Homo sapiens: one gene and its partners. The protein of the gene in region 6 purifies or fractionates together with the protein of the main gene of each other region. This does not show direct contact. Each region holds a gene or a part of one and is shown on either strand. Other genes may lie near its edges.

What was found.
Region 1: the proteins of APPL1 (region 6) and TTC4 fractionate together in Homo sapiens (co-fractionation; one large-scale study listed by BioGRID). This does not show direct contact.
Region 2: the proteins of APPL1 (region 6) and CAMSAP3 purify together in Homo sapiens (affinity purification with mass spectrometry; one large-scale study listed by BioGRID and IntAct). This does not show direct contact.
Region 3: the proteins of APPL1 (region 6) and ACTR2 purify together in Homo sapiens (affinity purification with mass spectrometry; one large-scale study listed by BioGRID and IntAct). This does not show direct contact.
Region 4: the proteins of APPL1 (region 6) and ARPC1A purify together in Homo sapiens (affinity purification with mass spectrometry; one large-scale study listed by BioGRID and IntAct). This does not show direct contact.
Region 5: the proteins of APPL1 (region 6) and DBN1 purify together in Homo sapiens (co-immunoprecipitation; one large-scale study listed by IntAct). This does not show direct contact.
Region 7: the proteins of APPL1 (region 6) and ARPC2 purify together in Homo sapiens (affinity purification with mass spectrometry; one large-scale study listed by BioGRID and IntAct). This does not show direct contact.

The regions. Positions count from the first base shown.
Region 1 is NC_000001.11:54,739,861-54,743,157, reverse strand, and holds the end of TTC4 (tetratricopeptide repeat protein 4), read right to left. Parts: intron 1,748-3,297; coding exon 1,645-1,747; 3' UTR 501-1,644; downstream 1-500.
Region 2 is NC_000019.10:7,609,363-7,612,862, forward strand, and holds part of CAMSAP3 (calmodulin-regulated spectrin-associated protein 3), read left to right. Parts: intron 1-1,113; coding exon 1,114-1,253; intron 1,254-1,337; coding exon 1,338-1,431; intron 1,432-1,514; coding exon 1,515-1,569; intron 1,570-1,732; coding exon 1,733-1,806; intron 1,807-2,154; coding exon 2,155-2,224; intron 2,225-2,324; coding exon 2,325-3,500. UniProt on the Homo sapiens protein: Key microtubule-organizing protein that specifically binds the minus-end of non-centrosomal microtubules and regulates their dynamics and organization.
Region 3 is NC_000002.12:65,251,831-65,255,330, reverse strand, and holds part of ACTR2 (actin-related protein 2), read right to left. Parts: intron 1,604-3,500; coding exon 1,467-1,603; intron 1-1,466. UniProt on the Homo sapiens protein: ATP-binding component of the Arp2/3 complex, a multiprotein complex that mediates actin polymerization upon stimulation by nucleation-promoting factor (NPF).
Region 4 is NC_000007.14:99,342,898-99,346,397, forward strand, and holds part of ARPC1A (actin-related protein 2/3 complex subunit 1A), read left to right. Parts: intron 1-1,395; coding exon 1,396-1,618; intron 1,619-3,500. UniProt on the Homo sapiens protein: Probably functions as a component of the Arp2/3 complex which is involved in regulation of actin polymerization and together with an activating nucleation-promoting factor (NPF) mediates the formation of branched actin networks.
Region 5 is NC_000005.10:177,467,135-177,470,634, reverse strand, and holds part of DBN1 (drebrin), read left to right. Parts: intron 1-1,735; coding exon 1,736-1,791; intron 1,792-2,414; coding exon 2,415-2,527; intron 2,528-2,817; coding exon 2,818-2,892; coding exon of another isoform or gene 2,893-3,007; coding exon 3,008-3,154; intron 3,155-3,302; coding exon 3,303-3,380; intron 3,381-3,500. UniProt on the Homo sapiens protein: Actin cytoskeleton-organizing protein that plays a role in the formation of cell projections. Required for actin polymerization at immunological synapses (IS) and for the recruitment of the chemokine receptor CXCR4 to IS.
Region 6 is NC_000003.12:57,262,229-57,265,728, reverse strand, and holds part of APPL1 (DCC-interacting protein 13-alpha), read right to left. Parts: intron 1-3,500. UniProt on the Homo sapiens protein: Multifunctional adapter protein that binds to various membrane receptors, nuclear factors and signaling proteins to regulate many processes, such as cell proliferation, immune response, endosomal trafficking and cell metabolism.
Region 7 is NC_000002.12:218,241,189-218,244,688, reverse strand, and holds part of ARPC2 (actin-related protein 2/3 complex subunit 2), read right to left. Parts: intron 1-3,500. UniProt on the Homo sapiens protein: Actin-binding component of the Arp2/3 complex, a multiprotein complex that mediates actin polymerization upon stimulation by nucleation-promoting factor (NPF).

The DNA of each region.
Region 1 (3,297 bases), on a different chromosome or scaffold from region 6:
TGGTCCTCAGGTCCTTAAGTGGCCAAAACCAGGAGTAGGAAGGAGGCTGAACTTCAGCTTCCTAGCCACAAGCCACAGACAGGGACCGGCACCTGGAAGCTGCATGGTTCTTTGTAAATATTCCACAGCCAATTTCCTTTCAAAGACAGTGAGGCACACTACACAAAACTCTAAATTAGTCTACTTTTTTTTTGGTTTGTGTTTGAGACAGAGTTTTGCTCTTGTTGCCCAGGCTGGAGTGCAATGGCACGATCTTGGCTCACTGCAACCTCCGCCCCCCGGGTTCAAGTGATTCTCCTGCCTCAGCCTCCCGAGTAGCCGGGATTACAGATGCCTACCACCACGCCTGGCTAATTTTTGTATTTTTAGTAGACACGGGGTTTGCTATGTTGGTCAGGCTGGTCTCGAACTCCTGACCTCAGGTGATCCACCCACCTCCGCCTCCCAAAGTGTCGGGATTACAGGCGTGAGCCACCGCACCCAGCCTCAAATTAGTCCACTTTTAAGGACAGCAGCTGGCTTCAGTTTACTCATGTATTAGCTCTGCTATAGTAACAACCAACCCCTAAATCTCACTGCTTACTACAGCAAACATTGCTCTCTCATTGCTGTGACACTCAGTGGCTGCAGGCCAGCTGCTGTAGCTCGGCTCCATGGAACGGCTCCTCTGTGGGAAATGTGTTCTCACAGCAGAGGGAAGAGCACAGGCCAACCACACATGACTCTTCAGGCTTCTGTCAGACGCAGGACAGCTCATGCCTGTGCATATCCCTCTGCATTGGGAGCAGGGAAGTACACTCTCCCGGGGGGATGGGGTGGGGGCACTGCAAGAAGTCACACAGCTACAAGTCAGGATGGATAAACTCCTCTTAGGAATGGGGCAACAAACAGCTGCAGACAAAAATATACTCTGTAACAACCCAACATGCTAGAAGATTTTCCAGTTTAAAAGACACAAAATCCTAAATGTCAAAACTGCAGAGGAACTCAAGAGGCCACTGTCCAAAGTCTGTCACAGTCCTCCATATGGCAAAGATGAAGAAAATTGGCAATCTTTTTAGGGGTACCAAGGATCTGAGTTTGTACGGTCTTTATAAATGCAGAGCAAGATGTGGCTTTCCTGCCCCCATTTCACCTCAAGGCATCTTCAGCAACCCCACATGGCTTCCCTCTGTGCGCATGAAATAACTTGAGGCCAGGGTCTCTCAGCTTTAAAGCCTTGGAATCCTATGCATTGTTTGTTTGTGTGTAGATGTGCAGTTTGAGGGGTAGCTTCTCTAAGGTGTCAAACTCCACAAAAGTTCAGAATCATGTCACTGGATCCTGAGTCCATCTCCACAGACCAGGGTGCCGCTCAGGTCAGTTGCTGTGGTAACTGCAGCAGATGGTCCCTTTAGCGATGGAGTCCAAGGACATCATGGCCAAGACCCAGAGTTTTATATCAACTGAGGAAAGTGAAGACCAGCCAGAGAGGCTGCAGTTTAGGGAAGCCAGAGGCTCCTCCCCCACCACGATGCCAGGAAGGACTATCCCCAGGGTGACGGAAAGAAAGCACTGGACTCCAGCAGTATGTCCAGCTGATTCAGGTGTGCTAGGTTCCCAGCAGAGGAGGGTAAGGGAGGAGATCCAGGGGCCCTGGCTTAGTCATCGTATCTGGTACACCTTTCTCCCCCGGAGAAAATTCTTGCAAAAAGGAGAGGATCCTACACAGACCAAAAATGCTGGTGTCAGGGCTTTTACAAAGTACCTGCCGTGAACACAACAAAAGAGAGGGTGTTAATTTAATTACAATCTTAACCATCCATGCACCTTCCTAACAACATGCAAGGTGAGCCTCTGGATGGGAGTCAACATGAAAATGCAAGTTTAGCACAGTTATGTGGTTGTTCATAAATCTGGCAAATTAGCATGACATTCTCATCCTTACAACCTAGCCAGAACCTTTAGGCCAGTCCTCTGGCATCATGCATGTCTGTGGCTAAATATGAAATAAAAATATAAAGCATGGTTTTATTCATTCATTCAACATTCAGTGGTAAGCCAGGCCCTGTGCTGAAAACACAGAGATTAAAAAACCAACACCCACACACCATCATCTTTGTTCTCAAATTCAGTCCTGGAGGGGAGGGAGATGAGGAACCAATTAATGACAGCAAGGCACAACTGCAGAAGCATTTGTGAGGCGCAGCATTATCCCAAGGAGGCACGATTCCCTCTATGAGGAAGGGAATCAAAAAAGGCTTCCTGGAAGATGCCATGTCTGAACTTGGCTTTAATTTGGGGAAGGGGTGGTGATGGGGGTTGGGGAGCAAAAGCCAGGAGGTGCAAGTAACCAGAATGTTTGCTGTGGCTAGGGCACAAAGCAAAAGGAGTCAGGCAGGCTAGAGAGGCAGGGAGGGCTTTGGCCTCCCAGGGATAGGGGTGTTGTATTACTCAGTGGGCCTGCTTTGGGACAGAGGGCCTATTTCGTGGCTCCACCCAGTTTAGGGTCTGAAGTTGCCAGAAACCAGTCCTGGGTAGGCTCTTGCCTATGGTAATAATTTTAAAGGTAGTAACTTCCAACAGCATTTACATTTTCTGAGAAGCATGAAACGGGTTTCCTCCAAGCATCGGTCTGCTTTCTATTTAGATTTCTCCTCTGGGGTAGGGCAGAACTCAGGCCTTTAAAGAATTCTGGGTAATTTGCTAACAACTGAGAAAATGAGCAGCTAAAAATGTGTCCAAAAACTAGAAGAAGAGAGATTTGGGACCAGAGCAAAACACCACCAAAGGTATCAATCAGATCTGGAAAAACCTTTCCTTCCTGCCTACCAAGCCAAAGCATTAAGACTAGCTGGACACCCCTATCACATCACTCAACACTACACCAGCTCCCATCCAATCTACCTCCTAAACCTCTAATCCACCTCCTCCTACTTCAGGCCTCACCACTGAACAGTACACTTCAAATCTTTACATTACTCTGTAATTTTTTTGGGTAGTGGGAGGAGGGGGTCTCACTCTCACCTAGGCTGGAGTGCAGTGGTGTGATCATAGCTCACTGCAGCCTTGAAATGCTGGGCTCAAGCAATCTTCCTGCCTCAGCCTCCCAAATAGCGAGGACTACAGGTGCACAACACCATAAAAAAGATTTCTATAGAGACGGGATCTCGCTGTGTTTCTCAGGATGATCTCTAACTTCTGAGCTCAGGTGATCCTCATGCCTTAGCCTCCCAAAATGCTGGAATTATAGGTATGAGCCACTGTACCCGGCCTATTCTGTACATCTTTTAAAATCTTTTTAATTTTTAAAAATCA
Region 2 (3,500 bases), on a different chromosome or scaffold from region 6:
TGTTGCCCAAGCTGGTCTTGAATCCCTGGGCTCAAACATCCTCCCACCTCAGCCTCCCCAAGTGCTAAGATTACAGGTGTGAGCCACCACACCTGGCCCGGAAAAGCTTTTTGAGCTGAGGTCTTGGGGGAGAGTGTTCTAGAAAGATGCAAAGGCCTAAGGCAATAGTCACCAACTTTTTGGCTCCAGGGACCGGTTTTGTGGAAGACAATTTTTCCACAGATGGAGGCAGGGAGGTGGTCTTGGGATAATTCAAGCACGTTAATCTTTATTATGTACTTTATATCTAATACGTTGTAACATAGAATGAAATAATTCTACAACTCATCATCATGGGGAACCAGTGGGAGCCCTGAGCTTGTTCCTGCAACTAGACGGTCCCAGCTGGGGGTGATGAGAGACAGTGACAGATCATCAGGCATTCGATTTTCATAAGGAGGGTGCAACCTAGATCCCTCACACGCCAGGTTCACAATAGGGTTCGCGCTCCTGTAAGAATCGAATGCCGCCGCTGATCTGACGGAAGCGGGGTTCGGGTGGTCCTGCAAGTGACGGGGAGCGGCTGTAAATACACTCACTGCAGCTCACCTGCTGTACGGTTCAGTTCCTGACAGGCCACGCCCCGGGGGTTAAGGACCCCCGGCCTAAGGACGGTCTATCATATAATTCACCTCGGCCGGGTACAGTGGCTCACGCCTGTAATCCCAGCACTTTGGGTGGCTGAGGCGGCCGGATCATGAAGTCAGGAGATCGAGACCATCCTGGCTAACACGGTGAAACCCCATCTCTACTAAAACCACAAAAAATTAGCCTGGTGTTGTGGCACACTCCTGTAATCCCAGCTACTCAGGAGGCTGAGGTGGGAGAATCACTTGAACCCGGGAGGCAGAGGTTGCAGTGAGCTGGGATTGCGCCACTGCACTACAGCCTGGGTGACAGAGCGAGACTCCATCTCAAAAAAAAAAAAAAAAGAATTCACCTCTCGAAGGGCACCTGGCAGAAGCTGGGCTCATAGGAGGTCTTCCGTGTGTGGGGGACTGCTGGTCCCTGGCTTCCCTGGGGCCCCATCCTCCTCCTCATAGAGTTGGGGACCCACTCCTCCTGTCCCCACAGAGGTGTGCTTGAAGGACCCCATGTCTGTGGCGGACAGCCTGTACAACCTCCAGCTCGTGCAGGATTTCTGTGCCTCTCGCCTTCCTCGTGGCTGCCCCCTGTCCCTTGAGGACTTGCTGTACGTCCCACCGCCACTCAAGGTAAGGCCATCCTGGGGCCTCCTGGGCCGAGGCGGGCATCTGGGGCCAGGGGTCCCGTCTGCTGACCCGGCCTCCCACCTCCAGGTCAACTTGGTGGTGATGCTGGCCGAGTTGTTCATGTGTTTTGAGGTGCTCAAGCCCGACTTTGTGCAAGTGAAGGACTTGCCCGATGGTCACGGTGAGGCCCTGGGGGCCTGGGGGCCGGGTCGGGGGCGGGTGGGAGAGCCAAACCCCCGCCTGACCCTCTTCTCTGTACTGCAGCTGCCTCCCCCCGGGGCACTGAGGCCTCCCCACCTCAGAACAACAGCGGCAGTAGGTACGCTCCCCACACTGGGCGAGTCTCTGGCATTGTGGGTGTGGGGCTCCATGTCTGCCTTGCTGAGCACTGGGACGCAGCTGGGTGATGCTGTTGTCTCCCCCCGGGGAGAGGCGGAGGAGGAGGTGGGGGTCCTGAGGCTGAAGTACGTCTCTCCGTACAGTTCTCCTGTCTTCACCTTCCGCCACCCGCTTCTGTCATCTGGTGGCCCCCAGTCCCCACTCCGAGGATCCACAGGTGAGGAGGGGGTAGGTGGCTTCTGTCACGGGGGACCCCCCCACTCACAGACTGCCCCAGTGGGCCTCATGTTGTCTCCTCGTGAGCCTTCCAATAGCCTCTCCATCAGATCCCCCTTGGGCATCCCAAAGTGACCCCCAGAATGGCCTCCCCAGTGGCCCCACAGTACCCCGTAGTGACAGTAAATGGCCCCGGGTATCTGTTTCTGGAAACCTCTGGTCTCACTAGACCACATAATGAGCCATCAGTGACTCACCCAATGACCTTGCAGAGGTTGTCCCCAGATGCTGGCTGACCCCACTCAGGGTTCCCAGGGTCCCCATAGTGACCACTCATCGCCTCCCCCAGGCTCCCTGAAGTCTTCCCCGTCCATGTCCCATATGGAGGCCCTGGGCAAGGCCTGGAACCGGCAGCTCAGGTGAGTAGACCTCACAGGCCAGGGTAGGGGGTGGAGCAGGCTAGGGCGGGTTGGGGCCGAGGCTGGTCCCAGGGGCTGACCCCTCCCTCCGGCCGCCCAGCCGTCCCCTCTCCCAGGCTGTGTCATTCAGCACCCCCTTTGGCCTGGACAGCGACGTGGATGTCGTCATGGGAGACCCTGTGCTCCTCCGCTCTGTGAGCTCGGACAGCCTGGGCCCCCCGCGTCCCGCGCCGGCCAGGACCCCCACCCAGCCACCCCCGGAGCCTGGTGACCTGCCCACCATCGAGGAAGCTCTGCAGATCATCCACAGTGCCGAGCCCCGGCTCCTCCCAGATGGGGCGGCCGACGGCAGCTTCTACCTCCACTCCCCTGAGGGGCCCTCCAAGCCATCCCTGGCCTCCCCCTACCTGCCCGAGGGGACCTCCAAACCACTGTCCGACAGGCCCACCAAAGCACCAGTGTACATGCCACACCCCGAGACCCCCTCGAAACCATCTCCCTGTCTGGTGGGGGAGGCATCGAAACCGCCAGCCCCATCCGAGGGGTCCCCGAAGGCGGTGGCTTCGTCCCCAGCAGCCACCAACTCCGAGGTGAAAATGACCAGCTTTGCAGAACGCAAGAAACAGCTGGTGAAGGCAGAGGCTGAGGCCGGAGCGGGGTCCCCCACGTCCACTCCGGCCCCGCCGGAGGCCCTGAGCTCGGAGATGAGTGAGCTCAGCGCCCGGCTGGAGGAGAAACGCAGAGCCATCGAGGCTCAGAAGCGACGGATTGAGGCCATATTCGCCAAGCACCGCCAGCGGCTGGGCAAAAGCGCCTTCCTGCAGGTGCAGCCGCGGGAAGCCTCTGGGGAGGCGGAAGCAGAGGCGGAGGAGGCCGATTCCGGTCCAGTCCCTGGTGGGGAGCGGCCCGCAGGCGAGGGCCAGGGTGAGCCAACCTCACGGCCCAAGGCAGTGACCTTCTCGCCAGACCTGGGCCCGGTGCCCCACGAGGGGCTGGGGGAATACAATCGAGCGGTCAGCAAGCTGAGTGCCGCCTTGAGCTCGCTGCAGCGGGACATGCAGAGGCTCACGGACCAGCAGCAGCGGCTCCTGGCCCCGCCCGAGGCCCCCGGATCCGCCCCACCACCTGCTGCGTGGGTCATCCCTGGCCCCACGACGGGGCCCAAAGCTGCATCCCCCAGCCCCGCCCGGCGAGTCCCGGCCACCCGGCGCAGCCCTGGGCCCGGGCCCAGCCAGTCACCCCGCAGCCCGAAACACACGCGGCCAGCGGAGCTGCG
Region 3 (3,500 bases), on a different chromosome or scaffold from region 6:
AGTCAGTAAAATGACTAGAAAAGTCAGTTTTTGAAAAGCACTGCATGAGTACTAATGTTTTGATAGTTTTGATAAACAATCAAAAGTATATTAATGAATAAATATTATTTTAGTACTGGACTCCTGTAGCCTGCAGTTTGCTCACACAATTAATGCCATATTTATGAAATGCCCCCAAGTCTTTAAAAGTTTTATCTTTAGCTTCTAGTACTGTGTCTGGCACATATTAGAAGGACAATAGCATTTGTTTAACGAATGATAAGGGAATTATTGGGATACTCAAAGGTATAATCTCCATTGTTACATTTCTTAAATGCTAGAAAATACTACTATTTTTTTAAAAACCCACTGAGAGAAAAAAAATTACTAGACTTTACAAATAAAAAAAAAATCCTCTAATATTTGAGTCTGTGTTCTAAAGACAACCCCAGAAATTCTGTTAGTTACGCTTTGAATTTTGGCCTAAAATGAGAGTATTATAATTCTCATTAATTTAATCTCCCCTCATGAGGAGGATTACTTTAAATGAGACTGAAGGAACCCAATGTCAAGGTAAAGACAGTGCAACCCAATTTAATGCAGAGACAGGGTTTCTTAATAGCAGCACCACTGACAGACTATACATTGTTTGTTGTGCAGCCAGCCCTATTCATTATAGAATGTTCAGTAGCATTCCTGCCCAGCTCAGACAACCAAAAATGTGTCCAGAAATTGCTAATATCCCCCAGAGGACAGCACTGTCCCCTGGTGAGAACCACTGTCCTGGAGAGGATAGACTGATTATAGAATTGTGGTATAAACAATTTTCTAAATTTTATTTTAATATTAAAAATGATATATGTTAGCAAGTAGACACCTTATGTACTTTCTCCAGTAATGTTTTAAAGAAAATTATAACTAGTTATATTCAGAAATAAACTAAAATAGTAAATATTAAAAACTGCATCTATTCCATGAAAACTACTAAATATTAAAGTCTGGCGTATTTGGGCTGTTTTCCTCAAATATCATTAATTTGCTATCACTGTATTTTGTAGGAAAGGACAAGAGCAGACAACCCAACCAAGATCATGGCTTAAAACATACCTGCTCAAAGAAAGGTTTTATGGCAGAAAAGGCTGCCTGAGCTGTCCAAGAAAGTTTCAAATTAGGGGTCTCTTCTATCCTTGAAATATCTGTCTACTCACTCCTCAGGAATAACAAATATAATTATGTAATGATATAATGTACTCTCATTAGTATACAGAGATCATGTGTGTACACTTTTTTCCTTGTTTTTAATGTATCTTCTTTTTTCTTCATGTGTATAAATCTTATATGAATTTTTATATAAATAAGGGAGGTAATTGGATAATTTCTCTAGTGGTACAGATTTGCTGGAATCCTAAAACGATAGATTCAATTCTGTGTTAAGGTGGTAAACAAATTACAAAATTTAATTTCCATGATATTTTCCTTTCACTTACCTTGATAAGATATCTAGTTATATCCCTCCCAGCAATATCCAGTCTCCTGGTAAGATGAGGGAGAGAAAAGCCTTCATATACTGGGCAAATGTGAGTCACACCATCTCCAGAGTCTACCACTACACCAGTCAATAAACCTGCATAAAAGCCAGGGGGATTTAAATAAAAAGTCAAATCAGGAAAACCAAAGCCAGCGAGTTCCAAATACAGTAGGGAAGCCAAAACAGAAACGTAACCAACTAGAAGCCAGAATTTATTATTTAGTTATTTTGCAGTTTGTTTCTAATGCATAAGTATTAAAGCGAGTGTTCTCTTTTAAGACTTTTAGTCTACTATTATGTGCTGTCCAAGGAGATGAGAAGAAACAGACCCTGAGACTGAGGACTGAAAAACAGGACTTTTTTTTCCTTTTTTTTTTTGAGACAGGGTCTGGCTCTGTCACCCAGGCTGGAGGAGTACAGTGGCTCAATCTAGGCTCACTGCAATCTTCATTTCCTGGGTTCAAGTCATACCTCCCACCTTAGCCTCCTGAGCAGCTGGGACTACAGGCATGCACCACCATGCCTGGCTAATTTTTGTAATTTTTTTGTAGAGACAGAGTTTCGCCATGTTGCCCAAGCTGGTCTCGAACTCCTGGCCTCAAGTGATCTGTCTGCCTTGGCCTCTCAAACTGCTGGGGTTACAGGCGTGAGCCACCACACCCAGCAGAACACGTTCTTAAAGCTCTGTACAATTCTTTATTTTTTTCAACTTAGATAGTTTTGAATATACTACAAATAACATATACTGTGTGTTCTGGAAAAATGCCTATTGATACTAGACAGCTAGAAATCTAAGAAAAATTAAACATGGCTAGCCAAAGCATCACTTTGATTATTCACTGGAACTTATAATAAAAGGCAATGTCAGTTAAACCTCATAATAAAAGAACAGCAAAGAAGCTGCTTTGTTTCCCCTGTTTCCTCAACCTCCTGGGCTCAAGTGATCATCTCACCTCAGCCTCTCAAGTGGCTGGGATTATAGGCATGTGCAACCACACCCAGCTAATTTTACTTTTTATAGAGATAGGGATCTCACTATGTTGCCTAGGCTGGTCTCAAACTCTGGAGATACAGCAATTTGACCACCTTGGCTTCTCAAAGTGCTGGGATTACAGCCATGAGCCACCATACCTGGTCAAAAAAACTTTTTTTATTTATTTTTATTTACATATTTTTTTTGAGACAGAGTCTCACTCTGTCGCCCAGGCTGGAGTGCAATGGCACAATCTCAGCTCACTGCAACCTCTGCCTCCTGGGTTCAAGCGATTCTCCCGCCTCAGCCTCCCAAGTAGCTGGGATTACAGGCACATGCCACCATGCCCAGCTAATTTTTTGTATTTTTTTTTTAGTAGAGACGGGGTTTCACAGTGTTAGTCAGGATGGTCTCGATCTCCTGACCTCGTGATCCACCCACCTCGGCCTCCCAAAGTGCTGGGATTACAGGCGTGAGCCACCACACCCGGCCTAAAACTACCTCCTTTTTAAGTGGATATAATTCCTTGATGCAATAAGCCTCATAAAACTCATATACAGCCCTTGAATGTTGTACTCTTTTAAAAAGAAGAGGATTTCCATTGCAAAAAAGAAAAAAAAAAGGAGGAATTCACACCATCATCAATTCAAAAATACTCCCAGGAACACTGACTAATGCAAGAATTTACATTTTATTTCCCAAAGAGCCCTCCCTACCCACCTCACCTTATTTTCTACCACTTCCATCAGGTCACACACATACTGGCCTTTCTCCAAACACACTTGACCCATTTCCAGTGCCACACTCTTTTCCCACTGGATTATCCCCTGAAGTGCCTAAAAGACTCCTTGGCACATATCTGACAGGCCCAGACATTCTCAGTAAGTTCCTGTTGAATTTATAAGACCATAAAAAAAAAAAAGAGCTCTCCCAACGTGGCCAATATTTTATTTCCAATAAAGAGGGAGGCAGTTGCTAATGGCAATATCAAGAGAATATATAAGTAGTCCCCTCCATTAA
Region 4 (3,500 bases), on a different chromosome or scaffold from region 6:
ATTTTTAATAGGGACAGGGTTTCACCGTGTTAGCCAGGATAGTCTCGATCTCCTAACCTCGTGATCCGCCTGCCTCGGCCTCCCAAAGAGCCACCGCGCCCGGCCTAACTCTTCAGTCACTATGACTTATGGGTAATTGAGGCTCAGAGGTATATTTGTCTTTTTTCCATATAAATGTCAAGAATGCTAATTATTAATTTTTAGAGAGAGATCTGTAATAAATATTTATTAGTAATATTTCTGTACTTTTTAATGTGAAATTATATTTATAGAAAATACCTCATCAAGGCCAGGCACTGTGGCTCATGCCTATAATCCCAGCACTTTGGAGGCTGAGACAGGCAGATCGCCTGAAGTCAGGAGTTCGAGACCAGCCTGGTCAACATGGTGAAACCCCGTCTCTACTAAAAATACAAAAATTAGCCGGGCATGGTGGCATCTGCCTGTAATCCCAGCTACTCGGGAGGCTGAGGCAGGAGAATCGCTTGAACCCGGGAGGCGGAGGTTGCAGTGAGCTGAGATCGTGCCATTGTACTCCACCCTGGGCTGCAAGAGTGAAACTCCATCTCAAAAAAAAAAAAGAAAGAAAAGAAAAGAAAATACCTCATCAATAAGTGTTAAATGAGTCATGGTGAATTTTGCTCTTGGTATATAAGAAACTGACCTTGAGTCTTGGTATATGAAAAACTGACCTTGACTTTGGGATTCTTCACAGAGGTACCAGATAAGTAAAGTCTCATCAAATAAGAAAAATAAACCTTACATTCAGATACATATTTAGGTATCTTCCTGGTTTAGATGCAAAGAAACAAGGATTCTTTCACAGGACCTGCATCATGTAGAAAAGGTTTTCAGTATGGTTCAACTGGCAGTGACTTTCAGAAGAATATATGATGAATCACAATATATAGTTCCCCCTCTTTACACTAAAGATTATTTTTATTTACCCTGTATGCTGTTTTAGTTGAATGCCATGTAGCAGACTGTTGGTTAATATCATAGAATGAGGTGTGTTAATGAATACAGTTATTTTCACACACACAAAAATCTAATAAAGAGGAAAGAAAGAAGTAATGAATCTTCAGATCTTTAGAAGTCTTAGAAATGTGTGAATGGGTGGAAAGAATGGCCCCGTTTAGTTTTGTAAAGTCTGTAATTATAAAACAGCTCTTCTACATGACCTCATAGACAATCCCGAGTCCCAGACGCTTTGCAGAGAAGCATCCTTGCCTTTCCTTGAGGCGGTGATCAGGACATAGATAGTGGGAAGGATGTGCCTGGGAGGAAGGTCCCAAGACCACGTCTCATCCTGGCATGCCAGTGCCACCCACCTGCCTGTGCCGCAGTTGTTTGTCATTGACTGGGCAAAGCAGATGACCCATGTCTCACTTGCAGGTATTGACTGGGCTCCCAAGAGCGACCGCATTGTCACTTGTGGGGCAGACCGCAATGCCTATGTCTGGAGTCAGAAAGATGGTGTTTGGAAGCCAACCCTGGTGATCCTGAGAATTAATCGCGCAGCTACTTTTGTGAAGTGGTCCCCCCTAGAGAACAAATTTGCTGTGGGAAGTGGAGCACGACTCATTTCTGTTTGTTACTTTGAGTCTGAAAATGACTGGTGAGTGACATCTGAATTTTTTCTATCCCTCTCTATAGAATTTACATTTGCACTGCTGTGTGAGGGCTCACCATAACTCCAGTTTTTCTCATCCGGAGTTGTGTGGTTTTTTCTCTGAAATTCTCGATTCTGTCTGAGCATTTTCCCTTCTCATGTGCATGTTAAGTTAAATCGCACGTTTTTTATATTAACATAGAGCTATTGTGTCCATGTTCTGATCGCCTAACTTGTTTCTTCTGCAAGATGCTATTACTGTTCTCACTCTATACTGCGCAAATTGCTGTTTTCTTACTCTCATTTACAAATAATAACATTGAAAGAGTCTCCGTTCCCTGAGGAATATTTTTTCTTTTTTTTTTTTTTTCACAGGATATCTATGTAGGATTCCTACAGATAACAATGTTCTTTTTTTTTTTTTTTTTTTTTTTTTTTTTGAGACAGAGTCTTACTCTGTTGCCCAGGCTGGATGGAGCGCAGTGACACGATCATGGCTCACTGCAACGTCCGCCCCCTGGTTCAAGCAATTCTCCTGCCTCAGCCTCCTGAGTAGCTGGGATTACAGTCACCTGCCATCGTGCCCGGCTAATTTTTGTAGTTTTAGTAGAGACAAGGTTTCACCATCTTGGCCAGGCTGGTCATGAACTCCTGACCTCATGATCCACCGCCTCGGCCTCCCAAAGTGCTGGGATTACAGGCGTGAGCCACCACGCCTGGTCAATGTTCCTTCTTTAAAGCTTATTTGCCAACCAAATCTGTGTCTTGGTGTAATATTTTACTTGTTTAAACTGTTGAAGTCAAAACTCACCAGAATCTTAGAAGTCTAATCAGCTATTGCACATTTTTTAAATTACTTCTTGCTGACCCAGTCAAAACACAGGTTTATTTTATGGCCAAAACTTATTTTAACTACTCCTTCCTGTTTGTTTTGATAAGGAAACAATTATTCTCCAGCCTGGCCAAGATGGTGAAACCCCATCTCTACTAAAAATACAAAAATTAGCCAGGCACAGTGGCAGGTACCTGTAATCCCACCTACTTGGGAGGAAGCAGGAGAATTACTTGAACTCGGAGGGCAGAGGTTGCAGTGAGCCAAGATCGTGCCACTGCACTCCAGCCTGGGCGGCAAAGTGAGATTCTATCTCAAAAAAAAAAAAAATTATTTTTCTGTGTGGCATGTGTTCAGCATGACTGGTAAATATCCTTCAACGTAAAGTTGTCATTTACTACTAAACTGGCAGTGTTTGTGTTTCTACTAAAAATAGCAGAGTATACATGACTCTTTGTAGCTGTTTTGTTATTTGTATTCTGCTGAAATTGAAAGAAGGGGATTATCATGTTACCTTTGTAATTTAGTAAAACTTCAGAAATTTTATTCTTCAAAAAGAGATTGGGAATTTGCGGTAAAATTGAGTTATGGGCCAGGTACAGTGGCTCATGCCTGTAACCCCAGCACTTTGGGAGGCCGAGGCAGGTGGATCACCTGAGGTCAGGAGTTCGAGACCAGCCTGACCAACACGGATAAACCCTGTCTCTACTAAAAATACAAAAAAATTAACGGGGTGTGGTGGTGCATGCCTGTAATCCCAGCTACCTGGGAGGCTGAGGCAGGAGAATCTCTTGAACCCAGTAGGCAGAGGTTGCGGTGAGCCGAGATCACGCCATTGCACTCCAGCCTGGGCATCAAGAGTGAAACTCCGTCTCAAAAAAAAAAAAAAAAATTGAGTTACGAATTTGAAACATACATTTTTCTTTCAAATGTGAAATCAAGGCTAACAAAATGTTACCTGCTAGAAACTATTTGGAAGTTTCATTGTAATGAGATAGGAAACTAACTTCATTAATATTCTCTCAAGGCTAAACTTTATGTCAGCTGGTACTCCTT
Region 5 (3,500 bases), on a different chromosome or scaffold from region 6:
GCAGAGGCTTCAGGGTGAGCCCTGTCCAGAACCCTGCTTGGGTCAGGGAGCCGTCCAGTGTGTCCCAAGTGTGTGGTGTGGACAGGGTGGTCCAATGGAAAGGCAGGCTGGAGGGTTTGAACTGGGGTATGGTTTCTGCTGGGGGAGAGCTGCGGCTGGAGCAGGAAGAGGTGGCCGGAGGTGGGGAGCCAGGGGCTGAGGATGGAAGGCACCCCGGGGAGCCTAGGCAGGCCAAGACAGGTCCTCTCAGAGGGAGGCTTGATGTCTACAGCAGTCTCTAGGAACTAGGGTCCCTGGGCTCTGCATTAGTTTCTCATCAGTGCATGGAGAGAGACAGAGCCTGCTTCTCCCAGGGCCCTTTGTTCCCGTGGTGGGTTAGGGCAGCAGGACAGGTGGTGGGCCAGCTGTGCTGGAAGCATCTGTCAGGGCCAGGCTGGGGCTGGGGGTAACAGTTGGACCAGGAGCTCCCAGCCCCACAGCCCACCTGTGTTCCTTCCTGGAGGTAGGAAGCCGGGAATCCAGGAAGGGGAGGGGCTGAGGCCATTTGGCCCTGGCCACAACCTCCTGAGACGTCCCCTCCATCCCTCCCGCCTTCATTTCCTTTGTCCCTTCACTTCTGTCCTTTCTCTTCTTCCTCCTCTCCTGGTTTCTCCCTCTGCTTCTCCCCTCCTCTTTCTCTTCTCCCTTGCCCTCCCTTTCTGCCTCCCCTCCTCACAGCCCCAGCCTCCTGCCTTGGCACCTGGGGAATAGGAGTTTGGAGAAGGGGTTGAGAGCCCTTTCAAACTTCAGGGACAAGGCCCTTCCTCCTAGGCCCCGGCTCTCCTCCCTCCCAGAGGGTCCTCAGCCTGGGCCTGCATGGGGTGATGGAGGAGGCATCTCTGCCTTCCCTTCTGTGCAATGGTTGCTCTGTCACCGCAGCCTATCAAAAGGAGCCAGGGCACACAAAGCTAGGGAGGAGGAGGAAGGAGGAAGGCCACCAGGTCAGCTTTCTGTTAGAGCTCAGACAGAAGGAAAGGCCAGCAGTCTCAGGAAGCCTCAGCCAGGACTGAGGCAGCCTAGGGGCTGGAAGGCCTGGAGCTCAGGCTTGGCCACCCCGGGGCCAGAGTCTGGGCGAGAGTGACTGCAGTGACCTCATCCCCATTTCAGAGAGGCGGAGATTGAGGCTGAGGGCGGGTCCCCAGGGTCCTTTGTGTTCAAGGAGAATGCAGTTGGGGTGGGCCAGTCGTGTGCCAATTGCAGGGTTGCCATGGTTACTGGGGGATGCCCAGAGCTGTTGGGAGCACCAGGTTCTCTCTTCTCCTCCTCCCTCCCCGGGGGAGGGGCAGCGGGGACCAAGGCACGTGCCAGGTAAGTTCCTGGCACTAGCCAATGGGGGATGAGGATCCTGGTAGCCAGGGAACGGTAACCAAGGAACCGTCGCCTTGGAATCTCCATCACACACCCGCTCCACTGGGTTGTAGGCTGCCAGGGCCAGGGCCGGGATGCTGCGCACTGAGCTCGACCAGCCAGCAATTTCTCCCCTCACTGCCTGCGCCCCCCTGACCCAGGCCTCCAGCAGTACCCTGCTGGGCTCCCGCCTGAACCGATGCCTGGCCCTGTTGTCATGGCTACAGCAGGAGCCCTCCCCGTTCCTGTCCTACCCACTCCATGTCCCTCTCCCTCCCCAGAGCCGTCCCCACCCAGAATTGGCGGCCTGGGCCCTGACAGTTTGACAGCCACCCCTCCCTCTCCCCAGGGCTCTGTACACATATGAAGATGGCTCCGATGACCTCAAGCTTGCAGCATCAGGAGGTAGGAATTCCAGCCATTCCCTCGCCGCCTTCTCCACCCCCTCCTCCTGGTTGTTTTCTTCCCCACCCACCTGGCTGTAGGCCACCTCCCTGCCTGCACCCTGCAGCCCCACACTTGTCTGGATCTGGCGGGTGTCCTTCCTCCAGTCATCCCTGTGTCCCCAGGGTGGGGAGGAATCTCAGAGCCTTGTTGAATGTTGGACTTCTGAGGCTGAGCCTCCAACAGGGAAAGTGACTTATCTGAAGCCACACAGCTGGGACACTTTGGGGGAAGGGCCCTATTCACCGCCTTCCCCAGAGCCAGAAGGCTTGATTGTGCCTCTGGGCACTGGCACCTGGTGAGACATGATGATGTGTGAAGAATGAGACCTGAGTGTGAAGAACAAACACTTCCTCAGTCCTACCCCCAAATCAGGCCCTGCAGGAGTCACAGGCAAAGCTACATCCCTGTGCGCCACCACCCCCACACATACCAACACAAAACTGGGACCCACAGACCCCAGAGGCCAGAAGACCCCTGGGGGTGCCTGTGGAGGCCTGGAGGAGTCTTTGCTTTGAGTTCCAGGCTCTTTTTGGGAAGGGTTTAGGAGGCAGAGAGACCTGACACTCTCCTGATTACCCTAGAAGGGGGCTTGCAGGAGCTTTCGGGACACTTTGAGAACCAGAAGGTGATGTACGGCTTCTGCAGTGTCAAGGACTCCCAAGCTGCTCTGCCAAAATACGTGCTCATCAACTGGGTATGCGGCCGGGGCTGGGGAAGGGGGCTGAGGGCCCAGAGCTGCTCATCAACTGGGTATGCGGCCGGGGCTGGGGAAGGGGGCTGAGGGCCCAGAGCTGCTCATCAACTGGGTATGCGGCCGGGGCTGGGGAAGGGAACTGAAGGCCCAGAGCAGTCGCCCTCCCCGTCGGCCCTCTGACACCCGTGGAGAGGGAAGCCCACCCTCTTCCCACCCCGGGGAAGATGCACCCTATCGTGTAGGGCCCCCCTTGTCCTTTCCTGACCCCCTCTTTGCTGGGTACTTTGCAGGTGGGCGAAGATGTGCCTGATGCCCGCAAGTGCGCTTGTGCCAGCCACGTGGCTAAGGTGGCGGAGTTCTTCCAGGTGCGTGTCAGGGGCCAGCGCTCTTGGGGGTGGGGACAGCCACCAGGGTCTGCGTGCTGGGGTGGGGATGGCGGGAGGATGGTGCCGCCTGAGCACTGCCGTCTTCTTGCGGAAGGGTGTCGACGTGATCGTGAACGCCAGCAGCGTGGAAGACATAGACGCGGGTGCCATCGGGCAGCGGCTCTCTAACGGGCTGGCGCGACTCTCCAGCCCTGTGCTGCACCGACTGCGGCTGCGAGAGGATGAGAACGCAGAGCCCGTGGTTAGTGTGTGTTTGGCACCCGTGGGCTCTGCCTGCGTGGCCTGGTGCCCGAGTCTGGCCTGCCCGGTCCCTCTTAGCTCTCACCCTTTAGGTGTCGGGGGTTCCTGGGGCATTCAGCCTGCTTATGCTGGGTCCTTCGACACTGCAGGGCACCACCTACCAGAAGACGGATGCAGCTGTGGAAATGAAGCGGATTAACCGAGAGCAGTTCTGGGAGCAGGCCAAGGTATGGAACCCTGAGCCCGGCCTGGCTGAGCCACCCCTCATGGACCCCATGGGGCAGGTCTGAGTCCCTCACTGCAGTGGCATGGCCCATGCCACGTGCCCCGCCCCCAGCGCTGGGTTA
Region 6 (3,500 bases):
AATTGTAAAGGAAGAAGTCAAACTATCCTTGTTTGCAGATGATATGATGATCTTATATTTAGAAAAACCTAGACTCCACCAAAAAACTATTAGAACTGATGAATTCAGTAAAGTTTCAGGATACAAAATCAACATACAACAATTAGTAGCATTTCTATATGCCAACAGTGAACAATCTGAAAAAGAAATAAATAAAGTAATCTCACTTACAATAGCCACAGATAAAATTAAATACCCAGGAGTTAACCAAAGTGAAAGATCTCTATAATGAAAACTACAGGCTGGGCGCAGTGGCTCAGGCCTGTAATCCCAGCACTTTGGGAGGCCGAGACAGGTGGATCACTTGAGGCCAGGAGTTTGAGACCAGCCTGGCCAATATGGTGAAACCTCATCTCTACTAAAAATACAAAAATTAGCCAGGTGGTGGTGGCGCATACCTGTAATCCCAGGTACCTGGGAGGCTGAGGCATGAGAATTACTTGAACCTGGGAGGCAGACATTGCAGTGAGCCGAGATTATGCAACTGCACTCCAGCCTGGGCAATAGAATGAGACTCTGTCTCAAAAGAACAAACAAAAAAAACAAAAAACTATAAAACACTGATGAAAGAAATTGAAGAGGACACCAAAAATGGAAACATATTCCACGTTCATGGATTGGAAGAATCAATATTGTTAAAATGTCCATACTACCCAAAGCAATCTATAGATTCAATGCAATCCCTATCAAAAAACCAATGGCATTCTTCACAGAAATAGAAAAAACAATCTGAAAATGTATATGGAATCATAAAAGATTCAGAATAGCCAAAGTTATTCTGAGCAAAAATAACAAAATTAGAGAAATCACATTACCTGACTTCAAATTACAATGCTACAGAGCTATAGTAACCAAAACAGCATGGTACTGGCAAAAAAAAAAAAAAAAGACACATAGACCAGTGCAACAGAATAGAGAATCCAGAAACAAATCCACACAACTACAGCGAACTCATTTTTGACAAAGGCACCAAGAATATACATTGGGGAAAAGACAGTCCCTTCAATAAATGGTGCCGGGAAAACTGGATATCCATATGTAGAAGAATAAAACTAGACCCCTCTCTCTCACCATATACAAAAATATTTTTTAAAAAAATTTTTTTTTATTTTTTTTATTTTTTTTTAAATTTTTTTAAATATAATTAAAATGGATTAAAGCCTTAAATCTAAGACCTTGAACTATGAAACTACTACAAGAAAATATTGGGGAAACTCTCCAGGACATCAGTCTGGGCAAAAATTTCTTGAGTAATACCCCACAAGCACAGGCAACTAAAGCAAAAATGGACAAATGGGATCTCATCAAGTTAAAAAGTTTCTGCACTGCAAAGGAAACAATCAACAAAGTGAAGAAACAAGCCACAGAATGGGAGAAAATATTTGTAAACTACTCATCTGACAAGGGATTAATAACCAGAATATACAAAGAGCTCAAACAACTCTATAGGAAAAACCTTAATCTGATTTAAAACTGGGCAAAATATTTGAATAGACATTTTTCAAAAGAAGACATACAAATGGCAAACAGGCATATGAAAAGGTCCTCAACATCACTGATCATCAGAGAAATGCAAATCAAAACTACAATGTATCATCTCACCCCAGTTAAAATGGCTTATAGCAAAAAGGCAATAACAAATGCTGGGAAGCATGTGGAGAAAAGGGAACCCTTGTACACTGTTGGTGGGAATGTAAATTAGTATAACCACTATGGAGAAAAGTCTGGAGGTTCCTCAAAAAACTAAAAATAGAGCTACCATATGATCCAGCAATCCCACTGCTGGGTATATACCTAAAAAAAGGAAATCAGTATATTGAAGAGACATCTGCACTCCCATGTTTGCTGCAGCTCGGTTCACAATAGTTAAAACTTGGAAGCCACCTAAGTGTCCATCAACAGATGAATGGAAAAAAAAAAAAAACAACAGATGAATGGATAAAGAAAATGTACACACACACACAATGGAGTACTATTCAGCCAGAAAAAAAGAATGAGATTCTGTCATTTGAATGGATGATACATGGATAAAGAAAATGGATAAAGAAAATGTGGTACTTACATACAATGGAGTACTATTCAGCCATAAAAAAGAATGAGATTCTGTCATTTGCAATAAGATATATGGAACATGGAGGTCATTATGTTAAGCAAAATAAGCCAGGCACAGAAAGACAAATATTGCATGTTTTCACTTATCTGTGGGATCTAAAAATCAAAACAATTGAACTCATGGAGCCAGAGAACAGAAGGGTGGTTACCAGAGGCTGAGAAGGGTAGTGTGGGGATGGGGGGTGGGAGGATGGTTAATGATTAAAAAAAAAAAATAGAATGAATAAAACCTGGTATTTGATAGAACGGGGGACTACGGTCAATAATAATTGTACATTTAAAAATAACTAAAAGAGTATAATTGGATTGTTTCTAATACAAAGGATAAATGCTTAAGGGAAGGAATACTCCATTTTCCATGATGTGGTTATTACGCATTGCATAAGTGTAGCAAAATATTTCATGTACTGCATAAATATATACACCTGGCTGGGCGAGGTGGCTCACACCTGTAATCCCAGCACTTTGGGAGGCCGAGGCAGGCGGATCATCTGAGGTCGAGAGTTTGAGACCAGCCTGACCAACATGGAGAAACCCTGTCTCTACTAAAAATACAAAATTAGCTGGGCGTGGTGGCGCATGCCTATAGACCCAGCTACTCAGGAGGCTGAGGCAGGAGAATCGCTTAAACCCGAGGGGGCGGAGGTTGCAATGAGCCAAGATCGCGCCATTGCACTCCAGCCCAGGTGACACAGCAAGACTCCATCTGGAAAAAAAAAAAAAAATGCATACACACACACACACACACACACACACACACACACCCCTTGTACCCACAAAAAACGAAAAACAAAGATCATCCTACTTTCACCATTTTAGCTCTAATTAGTCTCTTGAGAAACTTTGTTAGTACGATATTCTCAATAATTGTTCTATTAAAGGTTCTTTTTCCAGCTGGGTGTGGCAGCTCATGCCTGTAATCCCAGCACTTTGGGAGGCCAAGGCAGGTGGATCACTTGAGGTCAGGAGTTCAAGACCAGCCTGGCCAACATGGTGAAATCCTGTCTCTACTAAAAAAATTAGCCGGGCATGGTGGCACACAACTGTAGTCCCAGCTACTTGGGAGCTGAGGCAGGAAAATCACTTTAATCCAGGAGGTGGAGGTTACGGTGAGCCAAGATTGTGCCACTGCACTCCAGCCTGGGCAACAGAGCAAGAGTCTGTCTCAAAAAAAAAAAAAAAAAAAAAAAAAGGTTATTTTCCATAGAAAAAAAAAACACTAGAAGAAAATGAAGGGAAAACTCTCCTGCACATTGGTCTCGGCAAAGATTTTATGCCTAAGACCTCAAAAGTATAGGCAATAAAAATAAACAAATGGGACTTAAACTAAAAAGTGTCTGCATAGCCAA
Region 7 (3,500 bases), on a different chromosome or scaffold from region 6:
TTCTACTGCTGCTCAAATACTGCCTCCTAATACCATCTCCAACAAACCCAGGCAGGTACTGCTCTCTTGCTGGAGCTGCCATGTCTTTTCTACAAACCTCTACTATGATATTTTACCATTCATTAATGTATCTGGCTCCCCTACCAGGTTATGAGTTCAAATCAAAGATCCTGCTTAATTTATCTTTGTAATTTATTCTTCTGTCTTTCAAAGAGGCTATGCAGCACATGCCTTGCTGAGAGAAAGCAAGTGCTTCTACCCTAGCTGGTTTAGTATCATCACACTGTACAGGAATAGGCAAGGGCTGTTTCCAGTTGCAGGCAGGAAGAATAAACACTGATTAGCAAGCCCTCTCGACAATTAGTGGCAAAAGAAAGATGATGGCTGAGGAGCCCCAATGCCCAGCCTGGGACCTCACCTATTTCACAAACTGCCTCTCATGCTAACACTACCAAGCTTTAAGTAGGAAAAGAAATGACCATCAACTGGGTTAGATTAGTCCCCTTTTGAACAGATTTTGTTCCCCGAAGGAAAAATATCCAAAAAGGAAGGGAAGGAGTCAAGATTATCCCAAATGGAAATTTCTAGAGCAAAGCTTCTAAAATCGCCCTTCTCTAGAAAACATTTTTTATTCTACAAAGGGGTTAAGAAGCTTTTTAACTTTTACTGGTTTTACTTTTCGGTATTAAGGAATTAAACAGAACAGATACGTAACTGTTGGCATTTTCTTGTGTCTGTTAAGTGTCTCCAAGGCTCTAATTCACAGGTACATGTGGTATTCACAATGAGATGGGGTATTTATAAACCAGTGGTGACTTATTAGCACTCATTAGTTTTGTATATGGAAAATAACATATTTAAGGCTCGGTCAACGATACGTTTCTGGCTTGGGCCTATTCTTTCTTTCTTTTTTGAGACAGGGTCTCACTCTGTCACCCAGGCTGGAGTGCAGTGGCGTGATCTTGGCTCACTGCAACCTCCACCTCCTAGGTTCAAGTGATTTTCATGTGTCAGCCTCACGAGTAGCTGAGATTACAGGCGTGTGCCATCATTCCCGGCTAATTTTTGGCCTTTAAAGTAGAAACAGGGTTTCACCATGTTGGCCAGGCTGGTCTCAAACTGGCCTCTAGTGATCCACCTGCCTAGGCCCCGCAAAGTGCTGGGATTACAGGCGTGAGCCACTGTGCCTGACTGGGACTATTCTTTAGATTCTCTGATGTCTTTGCTTCTCCTCAGTTCTCTCTCCTAAATAAAGCTTAAACAAACAAACACACCCAAACAGCCCTCCATCTTCATTGGCATCTTTGTTATACGTAATCAAGCAATATTGCCTTTTTACTCTCCTTCTGGCTAGGATGTCTTTTGAGCATCAGATTATTTCTCTCTTCCAAAGTACTATTTATCATAGGAAGTTCGGAATAAATCCAAATATATACAAGGCATTTAGCATATGATAAAAGTAGCATCTTAAATCAGGGGTGTAAAAAAGGAAATAATTGCCACTGGGACCACTGGATAGCCATTTAGGAAAAAAAGATCATTCTTTCATACCATACAACAAGAGGAGCTCTCAACAAATAAGAAAAAATCATGTATAAAATATGTAACTGTAAAAATACTCAGAAAATAACAGGTAAATTTCTTTATAACCTTCGAGTAGGGAAGGGCTTTCTACCTATAACTCAAAATCTAGAAGCCATAAAAGGCAAGACTGATTAATTTGATTATGTAAAAACAAACTTCCACATGGTGGAAAAAACCCCACAAAACACGGTCCAATGACAAACTGGAGAAAATATTTCAACTCTTAATCACAGATGAAAGGCTACTCTCCCTAGTATGTAAAGAAATTGAGAAGCTCAATGACCCTACAGAATAATGGGTAAAGGACATAAAGAGACACTTCATAAGAAAATCAAATGGTCTATAACATTAAGAAAAGATGTTCTGACCTCAGAACATCTTTTTATGTCATCATAAGCAGACACAGATACCACCTTTAACCTATCAGATCAGGAGAAATCCACAAGTTTACAACATACTCTGGGAAAACAGGCACTCCTCTCCATCACTGGTAGATGATAAAATGCCACTACCCTGATGGAGAAGAGTTTGGCAATGTCTACCAAAATTACTGACTTGGACTCAGTGTTCCCAGTTCAGGAAAATATCCTACAGACATACCCACACATGCAAACAGGCAGAAAGGGCCCTCAAAATACATCTTTACAACTGCCTAAGAGGCAGGTGCTTGTGTCTTTGTCCCTGAACATATAAAAACCAGTGGTTTCCACTTAACTTTTCCTGGTTATTTAGTTACTAACTTGACTTTAAAATCTTAGAATATGAAAAGAATTCTAGTTCACCATAAGCTAATCTCCAAAAGCATAATTACTGGTCCTATTGCTTTTCATGGAATAAGCATTGAAATGATGGCTTCTATCAGACATTCTCCAGTACTCAGCTGATATGCCCATACCACTAGTGTGGAGGAATACACTTCCTGTCTTTTTCTGAGAGGTAGAAAGCATCCCTCAGAGCCTGCTTGCCAAATGACAAAAGCAAGACTTGAATTCTGATCAGGCTGGATGTGCATGCTGGAAGGGAAAGGCCACAAAGGCTGGCAACAAGTAGACTAGTGACCATGAGGAACTTCAAATAGTGTTCTCAGGGTACAACTTTCTGTGCCAGGTGTCCCTCATTCTTTTTCCGAGAAATTTACAATTCCAGGCCTAGGAAAAAGTTCTATTTATTTTTTGGGAAAATCCAGCAAAAGTCCAGTTTCCGATTGTCATTTCCAACAAATTACCTAAGCCTCTGAATTTGGAAAGGGTGGCAGGGCAGATGACTTCCTGAGTCTAGCTAGCACTGCACCAGGCCAGTTACTATCCAGAGATCCTGTTAGTGCCAAAATGCAAAAGAGGCTTTGTCTTTCCTTTTAGGTAAGTGCCCTACCACAGGTACCCTGAAGGAGGCATTTAAATCATATGCCAAAAAAGAATACACAAAATTCTCCTAAGGAACAAATCTCCGGTACACTCTCCAAGATAAGATCTGTTTAAAGTATAAAAATAAGTTGTTTCCTGGAATAAAATGGAATAAGATTGGTAAAAAACCAGCCAAATCTAAATATATACTTCAGAGCTTTTAAAATTAGTTTTGTTACTCTGGATTTAGCCCAATTTCTGAGCTACTGCATTTAATTCCCCTGTCAATTCTGCATAAAAACACATGAAATGCCTCTCTAGAGGCTTACTTTTAGGACCCAAGAGATACATGTATATTTATATATTCCTTCATCAAGTTCAGCACTAGCAAATGCTGAAGTGTCAATATTCCAATTTTTCTGTATAGTGACTCCCAAACTAGTTTCTGATTAATTAGCCAAAATACAAAAGCCACTAGGGATGGAGCAGTTGAGAATATCACTTTTGAAGATTTTCCTAGCCACTTAGAAGGCTATGCAAAGTATCTTTACTGTTAAGCACAGCTGTCTTTCA